2 separate regions of the Homo sapiens genome follow, and region 2 is linked to region 1. Evidence: fine-mapped expression QTL. A gene starts in region 1. The other region holds a variant in brackets. All regions are shown on one strand. Distances are from middle to middle. Region 1 holds the start of ARL15 (ARF like GTPase 15). Region 2 overlaps ARL15 (ARF like GTPase 15).

The links. PIP is the estimated chance that this variant, and not a neighbour inherited with it, causes the effect.
Region 2: its variant is fine-mapped to the expression of ARL15 in monocytes after LPS (Fairfax 2014, PIP 0.95).

Annotation. Positions count from the first base shown.
Region 1 is chr5:54,304,723-54,315,530 of GRCh38, reverse strand. It overlaps ARL15 (ARF like GTPase 15), which reads left to right and starts at 4,958. Exons shown (of 5, transcript NM_019087.3): 1 at 4,958-5,099. The coding sequence starts at 5,052. RefSeq lists a cis regulatory region at 1,850-2,197 and an enhancer at 10,196-10,808.
Region 2 is chr5:53,939,153-53,949,960 of GRCh38, reverse strand. All of the region lies in intron 4 of ARL15 (ARF like GTPase 15), which reads left to right. Among named protein-coding and RNA genes, the nearest start is that of MIR581, 7.0 kb to the left of the region's middle. The variant A/G (reference allele first, on the strand shown) is at 5,719.

The DNA of each region.
Region 1 (10,808 bases):
TGGTGCTTGAATGGTGGTTGCTTGTGAGATCTAGTTATCTTTCCCTCGTATATTTACCATTTTCAGTGGATGTCTTATCTTGCTTTAAAACCCCAAGACCCAGCAAAGCCCTTTTTGGAAAAGGTGAGTGACCCTTAATCATGGTAGGGATTAGTTGAACTCTATCCCCTGGCTGAGTAAACAGGAGCCTGGAAGGAACAGGTGACCTGTCCAAGCTCATCTAGTTAAGTAGTTACAAATCTTCATCTTGACTGCCAGGACTGATCTTTGAAAAATAGACATACAAGGCCTTAAGATCTACCTGCAGGAGAGAAAACAGGTTTAAACTGACATGGAGATATTTTAGATTAAAAACTTCAGACTTAGCTATTTCAGTGAGGGGTTCCTCTAGTTTGAGTTGCAAGTAGGTCACCATGCTAAGAGCAGAAAACCCTACTCTAATTCCAACCTCTGACCTCATTCAATAATCATTGGCTTGATTCCATTTATGAATCAAGCTCTGTTAGCGGCTTCATGTGGGGACACCCTGTTCTGATGAAGTTCATCTTCTGGGACACAGTGATACTTCATTTAGGTTTAGGAAGCAGAGAAGAGGACTGGGGTAAATCAGAGGTGGGTGTCAAGGTATCCACTGGAGAGAAAGGGAAAAAGGACTCAGAAGAGAATTTTAAAGTCACAGGAGTTATTGGATGTGGTAAGTGAGAAAAAGTGCCTGATGACCTCTGCAGAGCTGACCACTTTTTCTGAAAAAGAAGTGTCCATGATTTAAGAGTCATTATAATGAAAGATACCATCTTTCAGCTATTAAGGAATAATATTAAGGCAAAGATGAGACAAGATAATCATTCCCTACTTTGGAGCTGGGGGGTAGAAGGAAGAAGACTACATAAGCTAGGTCAAAACTGAGTATTAAAAGTGCTCAGCTGGGCGTGATAGCTCACGCCTGTAATCCCAGCACTTTGGGAGGCTGAGGCAGGCGGATCACGAGGTCAGGAGATCAAGACCATCCTGGCCAACATGGTGAAACCCCGTCTCTACTAAAAAAAGATACAAAATTAGCTGGGTGTGGTCACGTGTGCCTGTAGTCCCAGCTACTCAGGAGGCTGAGGGAGGAGAATCACTTGAACCCGGGAGGCGGAAGTTGCAGTGAGCCAAGATTGTGCCACTGCACTCCAGCCTGGCAACAGAGCGAGACTCCATCTCAAAAAAAAAAAAAAAAAAAGAAAAGAAGTGCTCATACTCTTTGTACCAGTAATTCTATTACTAGAAATTATTCTTAGGATAATAAGATGTGGATAGTTTTATAAGCAAACATTCACTGTAATATTTATAATAGTAGTAACTAATAAAGGATTTGTTAACACAGTAGTACATTTTTACAATAGTTTTATGTATCCATTAAAGATTTATGAAAAGTTTCAGTGAGATAGTGTATGCATGATACAAAACTAGTGAAGGCAGTATTCTCCTTGGAAACAACAAAAGAATAGCTGGAAATAACCACTAATATGTTGATTTTTCTGGAAAGTTGGGAGACCAAGTTGCAAAAATGCATTTCTGTTTTCATTCCTTGCAAGTGACAGTTTAACAAAAAATTTTCCTCCAAATTTGGCTAGCCAGCAGCCTTTATGGAATTTTAGAGTATGGACTGTCAAAATAATTTCTCTTTGCTTTTGACAAGCAACAGTGATGGCCTCTGTATTAGTCTGTTTTCACGCTGTTGATAAAGACATACCTGAACCTGGGCAATTTAGAAAAGAAAGAGGTTTAATGGACTTACAGTTCCACATGGCTGGGGATGCCTCATGATCATGGCAGAAGGTGAAGCAGGAGCAAAGACATGTCTTACATGGCGGCAGGCAAGAGAGAATGAGAGCTTGTGCAGGGAAATTCCTCCTAATAAAACCATCAGATCTCATGAGACTTACCACTATCATGAGGACAGCATGGGAAAGACTCGCCCCCTTGACTCAACTTCCTCCCACCGGGTCCCTCCCACAACACGTGGGAATTCAAGATGAGATCTGGGTGGGGTCACAGCCAAACCGTATCAGCCTCTTTCCTCAAAACCTATGCACTAATGCAATTGCCTCATGAGTTTACATGTTTCTTCCGCATCTGGAAGAGGGTCATTCTTTTCACTGACAGCAAGGGCAGAACTAGGTTAATGAGATCATGTCTTGTTCTGGATTGCAGTCTGTTACTTGGCATACAGTATGGTAGGTTGATTAAATGCATTCTAACTTCTCTACACTCTTTTAAAAAGCATGTATTGAGGTGATTACCTCAATAGGTGCTACCAACCCTATCAGCTATGACTGCAGCTTCATGTAGTGGGTAGTGTATTATCTGTTCATACCAATTCAGTCAAGTTAGCCTCTTTCCTCTGTAGGGGCGGACTCACTGACATCTCAGAAAACATCTAATTGAAAAAATGTGCTCCATATGGAGTTCAAAATCTACAGGTTGTTGTTGTTGTTTTATAAGGACTCTTTCCTAAAATGCAATATGTGATTTTTTAATACATTACACTGACTACAAGGTTTTCATTGATGCCAGTCACAATGAATGTGCAAATTGTGTGGAATAAAGTGAATATTATGGTGCAGTCTTTGGAACTTTTCCTTGAACATATTCTTTCATCTCCCTGCTTTGGCCCCATATACTAATTCTTAGAGGCAGCAAGAACCATACTGACCCTAATGACATGTTCAGGACTATCTTTCCCTAAGCTTAACTTTTAAAGGAAAGGCAGAAGCCACCTGCTTCTGAGTGGCTATCCTCCTCTGCATAGAGACTGATAGGCCTCTCGAAAGCCTGACTGGGCAGTAGCCCACACATCATTTATCACTAAGACAATGGTCCATAAGGTGTCTCTTTGCTAACTCAAGCCCTTTATCTTATTTTAAATATGCTTATTCACGAAGAAAAGCAAAACAAACAAAAAATGTTCCATGACTATTTCTGCTCATTGAGAGATTTTGTTTTCCAAATTAGTTTCAAACAAATTGTGCTAAAGAGTGTACGTTTATGGACGTCCATCTCCTCCAAAATCTAGGTGAAAATCTCTTCTAAACCTACATGTGTTTGAATTAACAGAATGCCAAGGAAAATCAAAATTGGATCTAATAGCACTTTGGGAGGCCGAGGTGGGCGGATTGCTTGAGTCCAGGAGTTAGAAACAGGCCTGGGCAACATAGTGAGACCTTGTCTTTACCCTTAAAATACAAAAAATTAGACGAGCGTAGTCGTGCACACCTGTGGTCCCAGCGACTCTGCAGGCTGAGGTGGGAGGATGCTTGAGCCGGCGAGGCGGAGGTTGCAGCGAGCCGAGATCGCGCCACTGCACTCCAGCCTGGGCGACAGAGAGAATCCCTGTCTCAAAAAAACAAAAACAACTTCCCCAACCCCGCCCCCCGCCCAAACCCTCACAACTTTCTGGCTGTAGGAATTCTCGTTTTGCAGCTGAGGAAACAGGTTTGGAAATTAGACTGCATACCTAAAATCACTTGGCTCATCAACCTACAGCTCCCTCTAGGGGGCTGCCTCGCCCTTATTGGTTATGTGCACATTTGGGGTGAATTCCACGGTCATCTAACAGAACTGTTTTGGTAGTCCCAGGTAAACTTACGGTACGGAAATTTGTTTCTTGAGGATACAAAAAAGAAAGGTGTCAGGGGGAAAGTAAAAATTCAACTCCTAAAACATCGCGTGTAGAGTCAGGCAGTCACTTCATAAAGAGTTCAGTCGATGAAGTTTCACTCTTGAAACTTTACTGTATGTATGCAAGCCCTAACTATTAATACAGGTGACAGCATCCACCTTATCTTCCATTCTCCCTAAGCCCTGAGGGTGGGGATGGGGGGGGGGGCACTCCAATCACCTGAGCCTAAGAACATAGCCTAAGAACATGTGTCTGGCATGGTCTGGTTATTTATAGCCTAAAAAAAAAAAAAGCCAGCTTCTTGTCCGATTCAGGCTTTCCCTGCCCAAACCCACTAGCTTAATGCGATATTGACATTACCAGGAAATGCATACGTCCCAAATGCATCTGCTTATAGATGTTTTTACCTCCTGAAATAATACCGGGTCACAAATACTGTTGTGTTTTTTGCAGAGAGCTTCTACTGCTCATTTAATTCAGGGGCGTTGGATTTGTGCTGAGCGTAATTTGACTCCAAGCATGCAAACTGATCAACTTCTTCCCGTGTGTTTGGGGAGTACAAGTGACTACTGCGACTCCTCAAATGTTTTTCTTTTCCTTTTCACGTGGAGGAAAGCGAATTCTCCGAAGACTGTTCGGCGTTCTACGCAGGGGTTGGAAGGGGGGTTCCTGAGTCACCTCTGGCTGCGCGGGGGGCCTGTGTGTACCCTCAGGGACACCAGGCTGGAATCGTCCACCTTACTTTCAAATGATAAAAGTGCGGAGGGTCTTTCTGCCCCTAAGTCGCGTACAGGATTGCCTGTTTACGGAGTACACTTTCACACACTTCTTTCCCGGTGGTGCAGTCTCGTGGCGGCAGAGCCTTTAGGAAGGCTCTGGGGGGAGACAAGATCAGTGGCGACCACGCCTCCCATGTTACAGCGCTCGCTTCCTACTGGGGGTTGGCGGGGACACCAAGGCTCTCCAGCCCGGGAACACGGAGTTCGGCTCCGTTGTACCCAACTGGAAAGCTGTGGAAACACAAAACTCGGGCGGCGACAGCACCAGCCGATTTTCCGCTCTCTTGGCTCTTTCTTCCGCTTGCACCGCCCCCACCCCGGCTCCTCCGCTCAGCACACAGGAACCCACATCCCCCACCACTCCCGCGTTTCTCTCCTGCCACCAGCTGGGGCCTGCCTTTTATAGGCGCCGCAGCCAATGAGCACGCTTCTTTCCTTCTGCCCGCCCGCCTGGCCAATCGCCGCGCCCCTTGTGTAATCTCCGGCTAGTCGGCTGCTTTCGGCTATTTTCGCTGTTGCTGGCTTTTTCAGGAGCTGCTCGCTCGCAGCCAGAGACGCTGCTTTTTTTTTCCGGGTTCGGAGCCGTTCCGGATGCTTTAGGCTGCCGGATGTCTGATCTCCGAATAACTGAGGCGTTTCTGTACATGGATTATCTGGTAGGTGCAGGGCAGGGGTGGCATGTCGCCTCTCGGATCTCGGCGTGCCCGATGGCCCCCTGCCTTGAGGAGCAGCCTTTTTGCTTTCTTTCTTTGGGATAGGATGCCTCTGGGGTTCTTTCTCCCGCAGCCGGCTGGTAAGCCTTTCCCTGGACTCGGAGGGGCAGCCTCCAGGGCGGGTGGGTGGTGGAGCTGACAGGTAAAGGTGCGGCCTGGGCCAGCACGGCTGCAGGGCGAGGGTCGCGCTGGGGCTGCTTGAGAGATGGGGCGGCCGCGGCGGCGCGTCCCCTGCCCGCGATCGGCTTCCTGGCTTCCCTCTGCGCTCTCCGCAGAGGACTTTCTTTCCGGGGGAGCAGGAGTTTTCCTCTCTCCCTGGAGCAGAACTCCAGGTGCTATTAAAGAGCCATAACCAGAATGGCTCACTAAGTGCCCAGCAGCCCTGGTCATTTGATTGTTATTAAATCTCTAAAGCTATGACCTCGGTCGTGGCGGGGTTTTAAAAGCACATTACCATAAAGCAGACGGGTCTAAACTACCTCGCAGGCTGGCACGAACAGGACTGAGTAGGGACAGGTATAGCCCCACCATTCCGGTCTTGGGTGCGTGCCGCGGTTCCACTGTGCACGGATTGGAACCCGGCTGTTTAGGCCAGGCTTGTGCTGAGAAGTTTAGGTGGGAAAAGTGTCAGCACAGTGCTGGGACCGAACATCATTTTAAAAATGGACTTCTATGTGTCTTTGTGGAATTATGCGAGCACCATGTTTTGTTCCAGAAATTATATTTCCCCAGAGTTGCTTGTTTGCGTTTAAGGGGATCCTCATTTACAGAGACTTGTGTTCGATCCTATACGATTATTGTGTTTACCATGTTGGGCAGAACCGCTATTGCCATGCAGAGTTGAAGTAGACGGTTAGAAACATTGACCCTCCTGTCATCTTGTTGGACACATGCACTCGGTTTTCGACTGCAGATTGGCCTGGCAGAGATTTGCCAGTGCCTTCTAGGAATTACACTTAAGGCTGTACTGAGAAAGTCTGTGCATGCTTTGATGGCCAAGAAACGCCGGACCGGCTTTGTGCTGTTATCTGTGTATTTGGGCTTATTTTAGTGTACATAAAGAAAATGTTTCTCCTAATGCTTCAGAGCTTGATGGTCTTGTGGGAAAGGATGGTGACTGCAGTTAATGCATAGCCTTGTGAATGGAGCTGGATCTAAAATTCTGAATTCAAGTTCTGTTTTGTTGTTCATTTGTTGATGGCAGTAACTTCCTTTATCTTTGTGATAAAGGGATATTATTCACCCAGTACTGTAGCTGGTTACGGGGATTATCTGATTATGAACATTCTTCACAATACAAGGTGCCCTGTAAGTTAAGAGAGCTGCCAGAAGATTATTTTCTAAGTTAAATAACTGATTTAATTTGTAATTTATCTTATAAAATACAATACATGGTTTTTGTCTTGCAGTCTGCCTAAATTAAAGCGAAAGTTTGTTGGGATAATTACCAAGTAGGAAAGGGTGACATTGCCTGTACTACTAAAAGCTAATTTTGAATACTTAAATAGTTCTTAAAAAAGAAAATCAGGTGGTTCTGACATTTTATTATTTTCTTTATTTACCGGATGTGTTTTAAATTTATAAATTGCATCACAAAGCTGTCTTTGAGGTGCCAAACCTATCAAAATGCTTAGTGAAAACAAAATTGATAACTCTGGTTAATTACTCAGGCTAACCTCTAGATAGGCATAGTCTAAAGGTGAGTGGATGAATGTTTGTGGGCCCAAGGTTACCTTAAAAGCAGATTAATTTATTTGCCAATTTACTAACAGCTTTGTGTCAAAATCAACAGGTCACAAATTTGACTTGGCCTTTTTGTTTTACCTGGGCTCAAGTTTACCCTAAAAGCAGATTAATTTCTTTGCCAATTTACTAACAGCTTTGTGTCAAAATCAGCAGGCCTCAAATTTGACTTGGCTTTTTAAAAAGCTTTACTTGCCATACATCTTAGTTTTACTTTTATATTTAAAAAAAATCATTATTTTGCCACTTTATCCATCTAAAATTCACAAGTGCAGTGACCAACCCCATAAAAGCCAGTGGCTACTCTTTGGAGGTGAGAAAAGAAATCTTAAAGGAAACAGTTTAGTTTTTGTGAGTGTGCCAAGTGTCCCCTGTGAAAAGATTTCAGAAAATTCTTTAGCATTAAACTGGATGGAAACAAACAGAAAAACCATCTCAAAACAAAAAACTAGCCCTCCCGAGGTAGCCTTTTTGTGTTCACCTTTTGCTTGTCGACTTTCAGAGAAAATGATGTGCCACACATTATTTTTCTCTTCCTGTCTTTCGGATTGACTTGCTTGCTTATGCATACTCTGTGTGGCGTTTATTAAAAGCCCTATTTCTGAGGAATAGAAATCAATTTATTTGCATCTGGTATCTTATTTTATTTTTAAAAAATTCCTGAGTTCTTTTACTTACCTTGCAGGGAAAAAAAATGCTCCTTTCATTCCAAGTTTGACTCCAGATTTTGCTGAATGGATTAGAGTAAGTTCCCTTTCCATGCACTGACAAGAATGATGGTGTGTGTCATTTCTTTTTAATCAGTATTTGACTTTCTTGTGTTGTTCCTGTTGGAAACTGGAAGAGAGAGCTGTGTGTGTGTATGTATCTATTGTTCATTGTTCTTTGGGCTGGATGTCGTCACTTAACCTTTTTATTTGGAGGAGAGTGGAAAGGAAGAAGGGAGAGAAAGGTGGAGGTGCTATTTTGTCTTAACAGGATTAATCCTTTTAATAAGATTGAGATATTAAAACAGATGAAGAAGCTCTACTGATCTTCGGGTCGCTGTTGATTTCTTAAAACAAATGTTCTCAGAAGTGACAGTCAAGGTGAGGGACAGGGATAGTACTTTAATATTTAAGACAGGGTTTTATTGATTTCAGTCGAGAGAAAGAATAGAAATTTGCTAATCCTAATCAATTAGATGTATCACCTGGTGCGGTGCCTGACTTGGTTTCTGGCATGTATTAATAGTTAGGGCCCGATATTTTATTTGTTGAATCAGATGAATATGAAATGGAAAGGAAAATTCTGCTTTTTTTCACCAGTTTTTAAACTGAGACAAGATAAAATCTGTTTGGATTAGGTGTTTTGTTCAGGGGAATGCAGAATGTATCCTTTACTCTTAACTTGAAGATGATCAAGATATAATCCTTTTAGCCAGGGTGGCAATTTAAACATAAAAATCTCTGTTTTCCAGTTGATGAGTGAATCTTCCTAGAAGGGCACACAACTTTTCCCCTTTCCATGATGGGGTTTAAAGGCCATGTTTACATCTGCCAAGTCTCTGGGTAAACATTTAGCTGCTGTCCCAACAGGCAGTACCAGCATCTTACTCTTTCTTCTCATAGGTAGAACTAGTAACACAATGTGCAGAGCTTTTTGGATAAGGTAGGAGAAAATAGTCAGGTTAAAATGAAAGAGAAAAACACATTTCTCGAGTTTTCCTGGGAGGTTGGACAAGATCAACTTCTAGATTCCTTTCAGTTCAAAATTTTCTGTCTTGACTCATGTGATGATTGATCTGGAATTAACCTTTTTTCCCTCTGCGCCATCAAAACAACAGTGGTAGAATTGGTTGTACTCTGTGTAATACCTATGATGATTAAATGAGATAGTGGAGGGAAAGCCATTTGTAAACAGTACGTTGCTTTTCAAATATAAAATGTTAACGTATTGTGTGGCTGGGCGAGGTGGCTCACGCCCGTAATCCCAGGACTTTGGGAGGGCAAGACAGGCGGATCACTTGAGGTCAGGAGTTTGAGACCAGCCTGGCTGACATGGAGAAACCCCATCTCCACTTAAAATAGAAAAATTAGCTGGGTGTCGTGGCGCATGCCTGTAATCTCAGCTACTTGGGAGGCTGAGGCAGGAGAATCGCTTGAACCCAGGAGGCAGAGGTTGCAGTGAGATCGCACAACTGCACTCCAGCCTGGGCGACAGAGTGAGACTCCGTCTCAAGACAAAAAAAAAAAAAAAAAGTTAACGTATTGTGATTATGTTGCTGATGTTACTTTTATACCTCCTGTAGAATGACTGTTACTGCTTAGTGGTATTGAAATACCTTTTAAACTAGTCTCAATTTATGGAAATACTGGGAGTTGTAATCAACAAGCAGGAAGTCACAAGACTCTTTTAAGAATCTTTTAAAAGCTACGAAAATAAAACCCATTTGAATAATTTATCTATTCAACAAATATTTATGGAGCCCTTACTTTCTGCATGGCCCTGAAAGTCATGCGGGATGAACCCTCAGCTGTAATATCCTCCTTGACTGCAGGACTGGCAGTCGTGTGGCTCTAGAGGAACCTGTGGCAGGACAGGTTAAGTAAGGCACATAGGGGAGGGGGTAGCTTCTGATGTGCTTCTTTGCTTTCTAGTACATTTCTCTCATTTTGTGTGTTTTATTGTGAACTAAAATATAAACTTAGACTTGAAAATGTGACAAGTAAAAATGGTTGATTAGTCTTGGATGCTAATTGTCAATTAATATTCATTGCATTTGTTTATAGTAGCCTCCACCCTCCCATCCACGGTTTTACTTTTCAAGGTTTCAGTTAACCATGGTCCACCGAGGTCTCAAAATAAGTGAGTAAAGTACAATAAGATATTTTAAGAGAGAGAGAGACCACATTCATATAACTTTTATTACTGTATATTGTTATCATTGTTCACTTTTATTATTAGTTATTATTAATCACTTACTATGCCTAATTTACACATTAAACTTTATCATAGGTGTGTGTGTATAGGAAAAAATATAGTGTGCTCTGTGCTATGTTAGTTAGTTCTATGATAGCTCAGTACTATCTGTGGTTTTAGGTATCCACTGGGACTTGGAATATATCCCCCATGGATGAGGGGAAACTACTGTACCGTGTTGGGGATTTTTTATTTATTTATTTTTTTTTTGTGACAGAGTTTTGCTCTTGTCATGCAGGCTGGAGTGCAATGGGGTGATTCTCCTGTCTCAGCCTCCTAAGTAGCTGGGATTACAGGTGCCCACCACCATGCCCAGCTAATTTTTGTATGTTTAGTAGAGACGGGGTTTCACCATGTTGGCCAGGCTGGTCTCAAACTCCTGACCTCAGGTGATCCACCTGCCTCGACCTCCCAAAGTGCTGGGATTACAGGAGTGAGCCACCGTGCCCTGCCAGTGTTTGGGATTTAATAAGATTAGATTTGATAGGTTAGTTTAATAAGATTTCTTTGTATAGACTGGTGGACTTGACCTATTTAGTTTCTTGGTTATAGGCTGTATCTGCCATCATAAAAATGTATGTCTCAGTGGGGAAGATGTGGTGAGAGAATTGGGTTGATCATCACAAATCTGTCACCATTTGCAGGATAAAAACCAGCTAACTAACCAACAATAGAAACCCATGATGTGCTACAAAGGGTAGAGCCCACAGGCACTATGAAATTGTAAAGGATCCTACTTGAAAAGAGGAGTGAAGGTACATTTGTGATTTCATATTATGTTCAGTTATCTGTGAACTGAACTTCTTTATTGATAAAAAAAAAAGTACATTGTTTCGTTGTTTTTAACCCTGAATATCTATGAACATTGTAAGTTGTATTTATTGTGACTAACTTTAAAGTGATAATGTAGGTCACTTTTTAGTCTAAATGTCGAGTGGATTAGGCAGT
Region 2 (10,808 bases), 370 kb after region 1:
TGTTAGCACAATGACCTTGAGCAAAGGCACTTTCCTTCTTCATATGCATTTGTTAGTCTTTAGTCCTAAGTTTTTGCTTTTGTTTAGTTTGTTTTTTCACTCTTCACATACGAGCAGTCTTTTGGAAAGAGTTACTTATAGTATTTCTAACTTGGAGAAACCTTTCATCAAGTTGAAAAAGTTCAGTGTTCTGAGCGATTATGATAGAATCTCCTGTCAGAATATATGTTCCCTTTTTGTTCTACTTCAAAATATAAGAGGTTAACTCTTGTAGGCATGCCACAGTATTTTTGGATTAAGTCAGGCCCTCCAAAAAACTTAGAACTATGAAACAAACCAGTGTTTAAGAAGACACATCCTTGGAATATGAGCAAGCCCATTAATTCTGTATTTTGAGTAAAAGGTGTTTGATCTTATGCATGCTGTCTTCCATGTCATCATTTCAAATGATGAAGAAACTACATCTCCTAATATTTGAGAACAAACTGCAAAAGTTGGTCCCTTGATTGTATTATAAATCCATAAAAAGACCCATTTTTAAACACAGCAACTTTTTAGGCAACTTCCTGTTTTTCACTTGAAATAGAAGTCAAACTGTTATAAGTGCTGTCTTCATTATTCATATTTAATTACACAGTGGCTTATTCTTCATTATTTTAGTGTATTTGTGAATACTCTAGCTATTGAGTAGAATACTGGTTACAAAGCTAGTCTATAAACAACATGAAATGAAGGGTGCTGACTCAGAAATTTAGAGTCCTCCACAATACCATATCCAATGGGAATTAAATCATTGTATTGTCTTGTGAGTCTTGAGGCTTATTTATCTAACTGATGTTTATCAAGCACCTTCCATGTGGCAGGCAGTATGTAGCTTTTATTTTATTTAGCAGTATCTTTTTTAAGATTATAAATTTTTTGTTGAATATTATTTGCAATCAGGGACACTTCTAAACTTAAGGAAAAACTTTACGACTAAAGTGCCAGCTCTCTTCAGAATGGCAGTGAAGGTAATGATTTGCGGTTCTGTGTGTGTATGAGTTTGTTATTATAAAATCCTTCAGCTCCGGGCTATGTACATTTATGTTTCAGTAGCATGTCTCATTAAATCCTTTAGTGCAGTACTTCTCAGTGAAGTGAGTTCTGATCAATGTGAAGGAATGCTGAGTGGGCACAATTGTGACTCTTGTTCTGAATATTACCTGTGCTTCCAGAAAAGTATTTTAGCAAGTGTATGACCCCTGGTTAATGAAAAGTGTTAAAATATATCAAATAAACTGTCTTAATTGTTCTTTTAATAAAAATATATGTCCACTTGGAAATAATAATTTCACTATTTTAACGACTGTAGTTGTTTTGGAAATTTGTTAGATAAAGGCTCCAACAGCATAAACTAATAGTTTTATATTACCAGATTGCTTCCAGATTTCTCTTTTCTGTTCAGTGAATAAGAATAGGGTGTAGGATCAAATTTCTAATGATTTTCTCCAGGAGAACCACTGTTACGCAAATACCGAATTTATAACACTTCAAAATAGACATCAGGGCAAATTTTACAAGACCTATCAGTTCATTTTTATTGTTTGCTTCTGTAGGTAGTCATATAGAAGACCAAAAGAACCATAAAACACTGTTTTTACATACATGATGATAGGAGTTAGGTGGGGTAAAGTTTACTAATATTTGTTAAGGAACCTACTACAGTAGTTCCAACTTTATTTTGGACACTTACATTTGTTTGTCATTATCTGTCCTCTGTTCCCAAATTGCCTTAATTTGTATATCATCATCTTACGTATTCACTGTCATTATCTCAAGTTTCCAAGGGTTTTTGCTATGTCACTATTTTTTACCTGTGCCTATTCTATTTCTTTTCTTTCTAATTTGTTTATTAGTTCTACAGTGTTATTGTTTAATTTATTGTTTCCTTCTGCAACCTCCCTTTTTATCTCATTTTTTTCCACTGGTGTCTCATTTAATTTCTATTTTCTTTAATCTTGTAGTGTAATGCACTCACGGAGATTTTTGGAGGAAGGTGGAGAGGGCTGTTTTCTTCTAAACTAGATTCTTGCTTCCTTCCCAGCCCTCCCCCTTTCTTTCATTTTTTTCTTTGCTCTGGGAGTCCTGCTTAGTTGTCATAGTCTTTTCTCTTTGTAAAACTTAAGTTGAATATGAACAACTCACTCAGGATCTTTTCTTCATTCTCTAATGTTGGTGAATTGTCCTTGTCTTGCTTTTTAACCGTCTCTAATTAGACCTCGGGGTCTAGTCCCAGAGCTGCATTCAGTTTGAGGAGTCGACCTGAAGACCCACATGCTGGAGATGAGGTAGAGTTAGTTGAGCTGGGCTGCGTGCTGGGATCCTACAATCCCAGTTGTTGGTAGGATCTTTGCTCTTCCTCAGTAATTGTATTAAATGCCCTGCATCAGGGTTTGCTCTACATATTCACAGATATATCTCTGGAGGAGTGAGATACGGGGCTTTGGATTATTCCTCCAATTCAAGGAGGTGCTTGCAAGCCATTTGTTTGATTAGTTTTGGCTAAGAATGTCAGCCTCAGGTGTCTCCTTCCCTTGCCACATCCTATCTTTCCCCCAGCAAGTGTTTTTATCTCTTTCCAGCTAATGGAGAAAGGAGAAACCTGTATGCTTTTACCATGGCATTATTAATCCACAGACAGGGAAGGGAACCTCACCTGGGAATTTTCTGCCTTTAATTCTCCTTCTCTCCCAGCCCTCAACACACACACACACACACACACACACACACACACACACACACACACACACACACCCTTATTTATTTTTCTCTTTGGCTAGACCTTTGTTTACTGTTTAAGATACAGTAAACTCTGATACAGACTAGCGAACCTCATGTTAGCACCAACTAAGATTTAACACAACTGGCAATTGGCTATCTCCTTCCCTTCATCCCAGCCCTTGTCCTTGTTTTATTAGCTCTACAACAATGAGATCCCACATACATGATTGAATTTGTTAGACTCCTACATACAGCTTTATAATAGAGTTTGGCTGTAATTAATTAGCTTTGCTTGATTATGACTCATTTCCCTTTTCTTCTCCTTTCCTCCCAGGCATAAAAAGCCAAAATGGTGAGTTCTGATTTGCTTTTCTGTGTCTGAGGAGATTCCTGTGATGGCAGGAAGAGCTTTTTACTATGGATGGATTTTTCCATCTCCTCCCTGGGCTGCCAAAATGCTAGCTTAGATCCATTTTCCCCAAATTGGGGGCTGTTAATGATAGTTTTCAGGATTTTGGCCACCTAACTTTCCCACCTCCAATGCAATCCCTTTTTACCTAGGAATCTTCTATTCATGGGCACCGCTTATACAGAATATGGTATGATGTTCTCTTTAACTTGGTTGGTCTCTGGTAACATTTTTGACTTTTTTTTCTTTTAACAGCGATTTTAAGTTTATTCCATTAGGGGAAAGATTCTATAATCTGGCTTTATTATGTCTTTTTTTTTTTTTTTTTTTTTTTTTCCTCTTGAGACCGAGTCTTGCTCTGTCGCCCAGACTGGAGTGCAGTGGTGTGATCTCAGCTCACTGCAACCTCCGCCTTCCAAGTACAAGCAGTTCTCCTGCCTCAGCCTCCCGGGGAGCTGGGATTACACTTGCATGCCACTACGCCTGGGTTTTGTATTTTTAGTACAGATGGGGCTTCGCCATGTTGGCCAGGCTGGTCTCAAACTCTTGACTTCAGGTGATCCACCTGCCTTGGCCTCCCAAAGTGCTAGAATTATAGGTGTGAGCGATGGTGCGCAGCCTATTATGTCATTTTAGCCCAAAAGTTCTGTGCTAGGCACTTCAGGTTTAAGACTTTTAATCTTTACAGGCCTGCTCAATAAACCATAGTGATATGATCCCTCATTCATACATGAGGAAACTGAAATTTGAAAGAGTGAGGGTTCCCAATGCCACACAGCTAAAGGGTGGAATATCAGGGTCAAATGCAGATGGATCTGTCTCCAAAGCCTGTGGTGTCTCCACTTCAGTGCTGCTGACTTGTGCTGCTGTCTGATGCTGGGTACCTCAGCAACCCTTCTAGGCTTTAGTTACTTCGTCTACAAAATAAGGGGCCTGGCCTGCAAGGTCCTTCCCAGCTCTAAACTTCTATGTTTATGGTTAGTGGAATGAGAACACTACATTTTACTTTAACATAAATTTACTTGACTTTACATTTAATAGCAATGGCCATATATTTCAAGTTTAAATATATATTTACATATTTCTGCAGTCGGGAATTTTAGATTATATAAACCTTTTTGTTTTTGCAACTCATTTTTCAGGTGCTTTGGAATTTCACTGCTGTTCTTTTTAATGTATGGTGTTTGCAATTGTAAAGTTTGGAATTTTCATTCAAATGTGAATTTTTTCTCTTATTCTGTCTTGGTTTAACACTTCTCAGTGTGCTGAGAATGCCTGAGTTGGAGGTAGTTTGAGAAAGTGGAGCAAAGCAAAACTAAATAACTCGTTTGGAGGTTAAACCTTCACCCTTGACCTAAACAAACTGAGTTAACGAACCAAAGATTACATTATGGAGACTACAAACCCCTGCTTCTACAAGTTTATAATCTAAAAGATAAACTGTCTGATGTCAATGTACGTCTAAACTACTCAGTAAACATACCCAGTAAACGACAAACATGTCCGTGTTCACAGTTGCAACGTAATAGTGATGTAGAAGCTAGGAGTACAGTGGAAATAGCGATTGTCTGTTAGATCAGGAAGTACAGAACATGAAAGGCCACTGTGGACAGAATGGATCATCGTAGGAATAAGGTCACATGAGGCAGGACTTTGAAGATGGTTGAGTAGAGACGAGGAAGCTGACTCACATCTCTCTCAGCCACTCCAAGCTTACTCCTTAGTCAAGTGCTGTTTAGCCCTCTGCCTACAAGAATGCAGCCTCCCTGATCTGTTGCCCAGGAATCAGTATTTGTTTTTCACTGCCTTCTTTCTAAATGTCAATTCCATCCCAAAGATGGGATCCTTAGAAGTATTGAACCTATATTGGCCTGTCTCTGCATAGTGTAACTTAATTGGGCTACTTCTAACCATGCTTTTCTCTATTTTGTTTATTTGGTATTCTTTGAGGACATTATATGTGCCAGACACTTTGCTAGGCCTTAGGTATATAGTGACGAGCAAAAGAAATAGTAATTAAGCTGATACATTTGTAGTGAATCAGAAAATTAGCAATTCTAGAAAAGCAGACAAATAATTAGCAAAGAAATCAAGGAAAAGGATAAGGTAGTAGGATAGAAAATAGCTGAGAGTGCAGTCGGGAGCTACTCAGTAGGTGATCAGGTTTGTTGTTTGTTTTTTGTTTGTTTGTTTGTTTTTTGAGGCAGGGTCTCACTCTGCCACCCAGGCTGGAGTGCAGTGGCATGATCACAGCTTTCTGCAGCCTCAACCTCCCAGACTCAGGTGATCCTCCCACCTCAGCCTCCCGCATGCCACCACACTCAGCAAATTTTTTGTATTTTTTGTAGAGATGAAGTTTCACCGTGTTGCCCAGGATGGTCTCAAACTCCTGGGCTCAAACGATCCTCCTGCCTCGGCCTCCCAAAGTGCTGGGATTACAGGTGCGAACAACTGTGCCCGGCCAGGTCATTTCTTTATTTCATCCCTTTTCTCATATATTCCAAGTCTCTTGCTCAAGCTGTTTAACCACTCCCTTGTGGACTTTTTCT[A/G]AAGCCCCATATCTAGGCTGTTTGTCTACAGAATTGATGATACTTTTAAACTCCTTTTAGTTAAAACCCAAGTATTTGTTCAAACCCTGTTGTGTTTTTGGCTCTGTGCCAGACATGGTGGTGTTTACCATGTAGTTCTAAGGCCCTGTAAGATCCCTAGAAGGATCTTAATTCATTTTCTATCCTTCACTTGCTGTGATTTTTATCTCCCATGCCCATGTAACATGGGGTCCAGAGTTGAGATGAGTGTCTTTCTTGTTCCTTACTGCCACTTCCAGACCATTTATCTTGCAATTAAAAATTCCATTTCCTTTTAATTTTAAGCCATTGCACTATTCTACCTACTACTGTTCTGGACACATTTTGTACAGCTTCCTGTTGATTCTGACCATCATTCATAGAAGCTTTTGAGCGCTGGTTTGACACCTCTTCTTCCCATGGCTGTCTGTCATTCTTGGAAACTCCAGCTCTCAGGTAGAAAATTTATCCAGCTTTGGTTCTCTTAGTTCCTTGAGCACTTTCCTTCCAACAATCTTTCTTTCACTCTATCTCAGCCACCCACTCAGGCCATTCTCAACCAGACTTGGCCATTATAAGTAGCTGTACCACCTGTGAAACCTCATCTTTAAGCACTGTCTTTGACAATTCCTGTCTTTTCAACTCACTTACTCCATACCTGCATCAGAAAAACTGAACATGACAGAAGGAAAAACCAGCAATACTACTCCTGACTGGCTTATTAAATTGATGACCATAAGGCTCAAGGGGCCCCAAATTTTCTAGTAATCTTAGCTGGTCACTTCTCTGGGAAGGACTCATTCATAGTTTCTCCTCCTCTCTCAAACCTTCAGTATCCCTTCCACCTTCTCAGTGGATGACCTCACTCCCTGTTTCCCTGAGAAAATAAAAATCATCAAAACAAAAAATCTACTAACCTTTTACACACACTTTCTTACCATATCCTTTTTCCTTTCACCTACTGAAGTTACATTTTCTTTCTGGCATCATCACTTTGTTCTTCTCTCTAGTGAATTATTACAATCAGGATACAGAGTGTTAAAATTATATACATAGCCCGTTAAAATCTTTTAAAAATCCCTTCTTATCTTCCCCAACACCCCCGCCCACTCCCCACTGACCAGCCCTCCTCCAGCAAGTTTCTTTCTTGGCTCTGCAAGCACACACTTATCGTGAAGCTCCTAGAGAGAACATTTATTGTCTCTTTGTTGCCTCCATTTCCTCCCCTCCCATTTTCCCTCTTGAAGTCATGCCAATCAGTTCTCTCATGACTCAACTACTACGCAATCCACAGCGGATCCATCCCTCCTTCCTGAAGCACTTTCATCACTGGTGGCTGCTTATCACACCCTCACATGTCCTGACTTCTAAATAGTGGAATGCGGGCCTCATTTTGTTTTTAATCTCTTCTCCACCTACACTCATATCCTAGGTCATCTCACCTTTCCCATGGTTGTTTTGTTTTGTTTTGTTTTGTTTGAGATGGAGTCTCGCTCTGTCACCCAGGCTGGAGTGCAGTGGCGCGATCTCGGCTCACTGCAACCTCCACCTCCTGGGTTCAAGCGATTCTCCTGACTCAGCCTCCTGAGTAGCTGGGATTACAGGCGCATGCCACCATGCCCAGCTAATTTTTGTATTTTTAGTAGAGACGGGGTTTCACCATGTTGGCCGGGATGGTCTCGATCTCTTGACCTCATGATCCACCTGCCTCGGCCTCCCAAAATGCTGGGATTACAGGCATGAGCCACCGCGCCTGGTCCTTGGTCCATGGTTTTAAATACACCAATGATGCCTATAAACTGATGAGTCCTACATTTAAATCTCTAGCCAAAGCTCTCAACCGATTTCTAGATTATTCCTGTGCTTCCACAGCTTCTAGTGCCACTGGTATGTCTGATGCCATCTTACATTTAAGGTCAAAAGATTCCTGAAGCCCCCACACAACTCAAACCCAACTTCTCCCCCATTGTTTTCCATCTCAGTCAAAGTAGCATCCTTCCCTCTCTTCCCCACCCACCCCACAATTTACCTAGTTCCCTGGCCCCAGTTTCTCTCAGTGCCCACATGAGCAAGACCAGTTGCCTTTATCTTCAAAATATATCCTGAACCTACAGTATTACCACCCTAGTCCAAGCAACCTGCAACCATTCCTCTCTGGATTCTTGTAATTGCTTCCTACCTGGCATCTCTGCTTCCATTCTTGCCCCTGCCCGCCCCATACTCTTTACATGGATTTTTTAAATAGATAAATCAGACTGTGCCACTTCCCTTCCCAGAGCCCTGCGGTGGTTTCTCATCATGAAAATAAATAGCTCTCCTGACCCAGGCCTTGCTTAGCTTTCTGACTTCCTTTTCTACTGCTGGAGACAGTTAGAGGTGAGCACCCTGTAGAGAGGTGGGCCCTCTATTAGGTGGAGGGGAGGGGAGGAAAGGGAGGAAGGGAGGGAAGAAAGCGAGAAAACACCAACAACTCAAAGAAGAATCACCACATAAACAACTGTGCCCACCAGGAACATGCATCTTGCCTGCTATTATCTAATAGTTGAGATGTGAAGTGGACTGGCAAATTTGTGGGTTCTGGTTATGGAGAACTGACCTAGGTTGATATTCATTCTGCCAGAGCCACTGGAATTTGTAGTTTCTGAAAAGACTTGTGTTATTTGGCAAAACCAGAATTGGGCATCATTTATCTTCATGTACTTAGCCAAAGCCCTAGAAAAACTTTTTTGATTCTTAAGAAAATGATCTAAACCCAATAATCCTTGCTTCGTTTATTTTTAACGACAGGCCCATTCTGTAGAGTTTTTCTGTATGAACTTACCCGACCTCCTGTAAAAAGAAAGATCTACCTTGGATATAGAAATTTATTTATTATCTGTTTCATTCTGTTCTTTTCTGAGAACAGCAAGTTTTCCACGTAGTTCTGTATACATAATCCTTTTTTTAAAGGATTGCAGGCACATTTTATTGTGAATTTGGCCATGGTTTAATGATGTATAATGTTGGATTTCTTCATATCTTAAATATTAAAAAAGCTTATACAGAAGTAAAGGGAAAGGGGAAGAAGGAGAAAAGTAGAAGAAGAGAATGACTAATGCTTTGGTTTAACAAATAACATTGTGAAATAAACCATTGATATTTTGTAAGGTAAAAATCTTTCAAATCTACTCATTATTATAATAATAAGTAATAAAATACTCATCTCACAGGCAGTTCAAAGGAACCCCATTGACTAAACTTGGTAATTAATTGGTAAGCTTTAATGGACAATATAATAAATATTTTTCTTGTAAAAGCTTGACCTAGTACAATTTTTGGTGAAACAGTTTGCTTTTACAGAATAATAAAACTACAAAGACATTTTGAGAATTAAGTCAGCTGCATGATGTGATCATTAAGCTATTTGCTATAAAATGTACATTCAAATTATTAGAAGTTCAAAAGAATTGATGACACATTAGAAATGTATTTTCTGTTTTTCATATGAAACATAAAAGCTCTAGAAGTTATGGGCATAAGTGAAGTATGCATGTTTCCTTCTCTCCCTTCTTAAAAAATCCATAATTGTTCTCTGTTTAAGCATAGAAAAATGCCATGTGACTTTTATTTCTCCAGAAAATTAGGAATAACCTGTGGGCATTTAAGGTTATACTAGAACATGCATAATGAGTGAATTCCTATTAATTCCATGTTATATTGAGGAAAAATGCTTCAAATATACGTAACTTCCACCAGAGTAGTTAGCTTTTTCTTAGCTATATTTGGAACTTTGATTACTACTCTTAATCTCTTTCAAAGTTTAATTTTATTAAATTGCTCAAAGGTAGAGACAAAAGGTTATGGTGTTTTTCTTTTTTCTTTCAGCAAATGAAGAAAATACAAATTTGCTACATGCCTATGGGAATTAAGCAGTATCATAGCACTGGTTGGTCTAGTTTTAAAACTTCAGGACTGCCGGGCGCGGTGGTTCACGCCTGTAATCCCAGCACTTTGGGAGGCCAAGGTGGGCGGATGACGGGGTCAGGAGATCAAGACCATCCTGGCTAACACGGTGAAACCCCGTCTCTACTAAAAATACCAGAAAAATTAGCCGTGGCAGGCACCTGTAGTCCCAGCTACTCGGGAGGCTGAGGCAGGAGAATGGCGTGAACCAGGGAGGCGGAGCTTGCAGTGAGCCGAGATCGCGCCTCTGCACTCCAGCCTGGGCGACAGAGCGAGGCTCCGTCTCAAAAAAAAAAAAAAAAAAGTTCAGGACTTTATTTTCAAGCAAAAATCAAAGTTGTTTGTTGTTGTTGTTGTTGTTGTTGTTGTTTTTTCTGGATAACACCTAAGTTACAAACGTCTGTTCATATTTGTTTGAATCAGTGTTTAATTTTATTCTTTTATGATTATTAATCTACAGATTTCAAATGTAAGGAACATTGGAATAGTGAGTGATGTAGCAGCTAACTTTCTTTTTCTTTCTTTCTTTATTTTATTTTATTTTTTTTTGAGACGGAGTCTCGCTTTATCTCCAGGCTGGAGTGCAGTAGCGGGATCTCGGCTCACTGCAACCACCACCTCCCGGGTTCAAGCAATTCTCCTGCCTCAACCTCCAGAGTAGGTGGGACTACAGGCGCGCCCCACCACGCCTAGCTAATTTTTTTATTTTTAGTAGAGACAGGGTTTCATCATGTTGGCCAGCATGGTGTTGATCTCCTGACCTCATGATCCACCCACCTCGGCCTCAGAAGGTGCTGGGGTTATAGGCGTGAGCCATCGCGCCCGGCCCAGCATCTAACTTGCTATTTGCAAAACGGAAATGTAATGACTGAATATTTTCGTCAGTCCAAAAATTTGTGAAGAGAAGAATTTTAATAACATTATAACAAACAGTAATGTCAGTAAAATGGAAACTGAAATGCATGCATTAGCATGAAATATAAGACTAGGGGAAGAGACAGAAGATAGGTAACACTTTCATAAGAAAAATTATTAGAAAACATTCGTTCCCGAGTGAAAGGAAAGGTGAAGGTACTTGAAGAAAATGAACAATTGCCTTTTCACTCATCCAGAGTGCCTTTGAACTCATT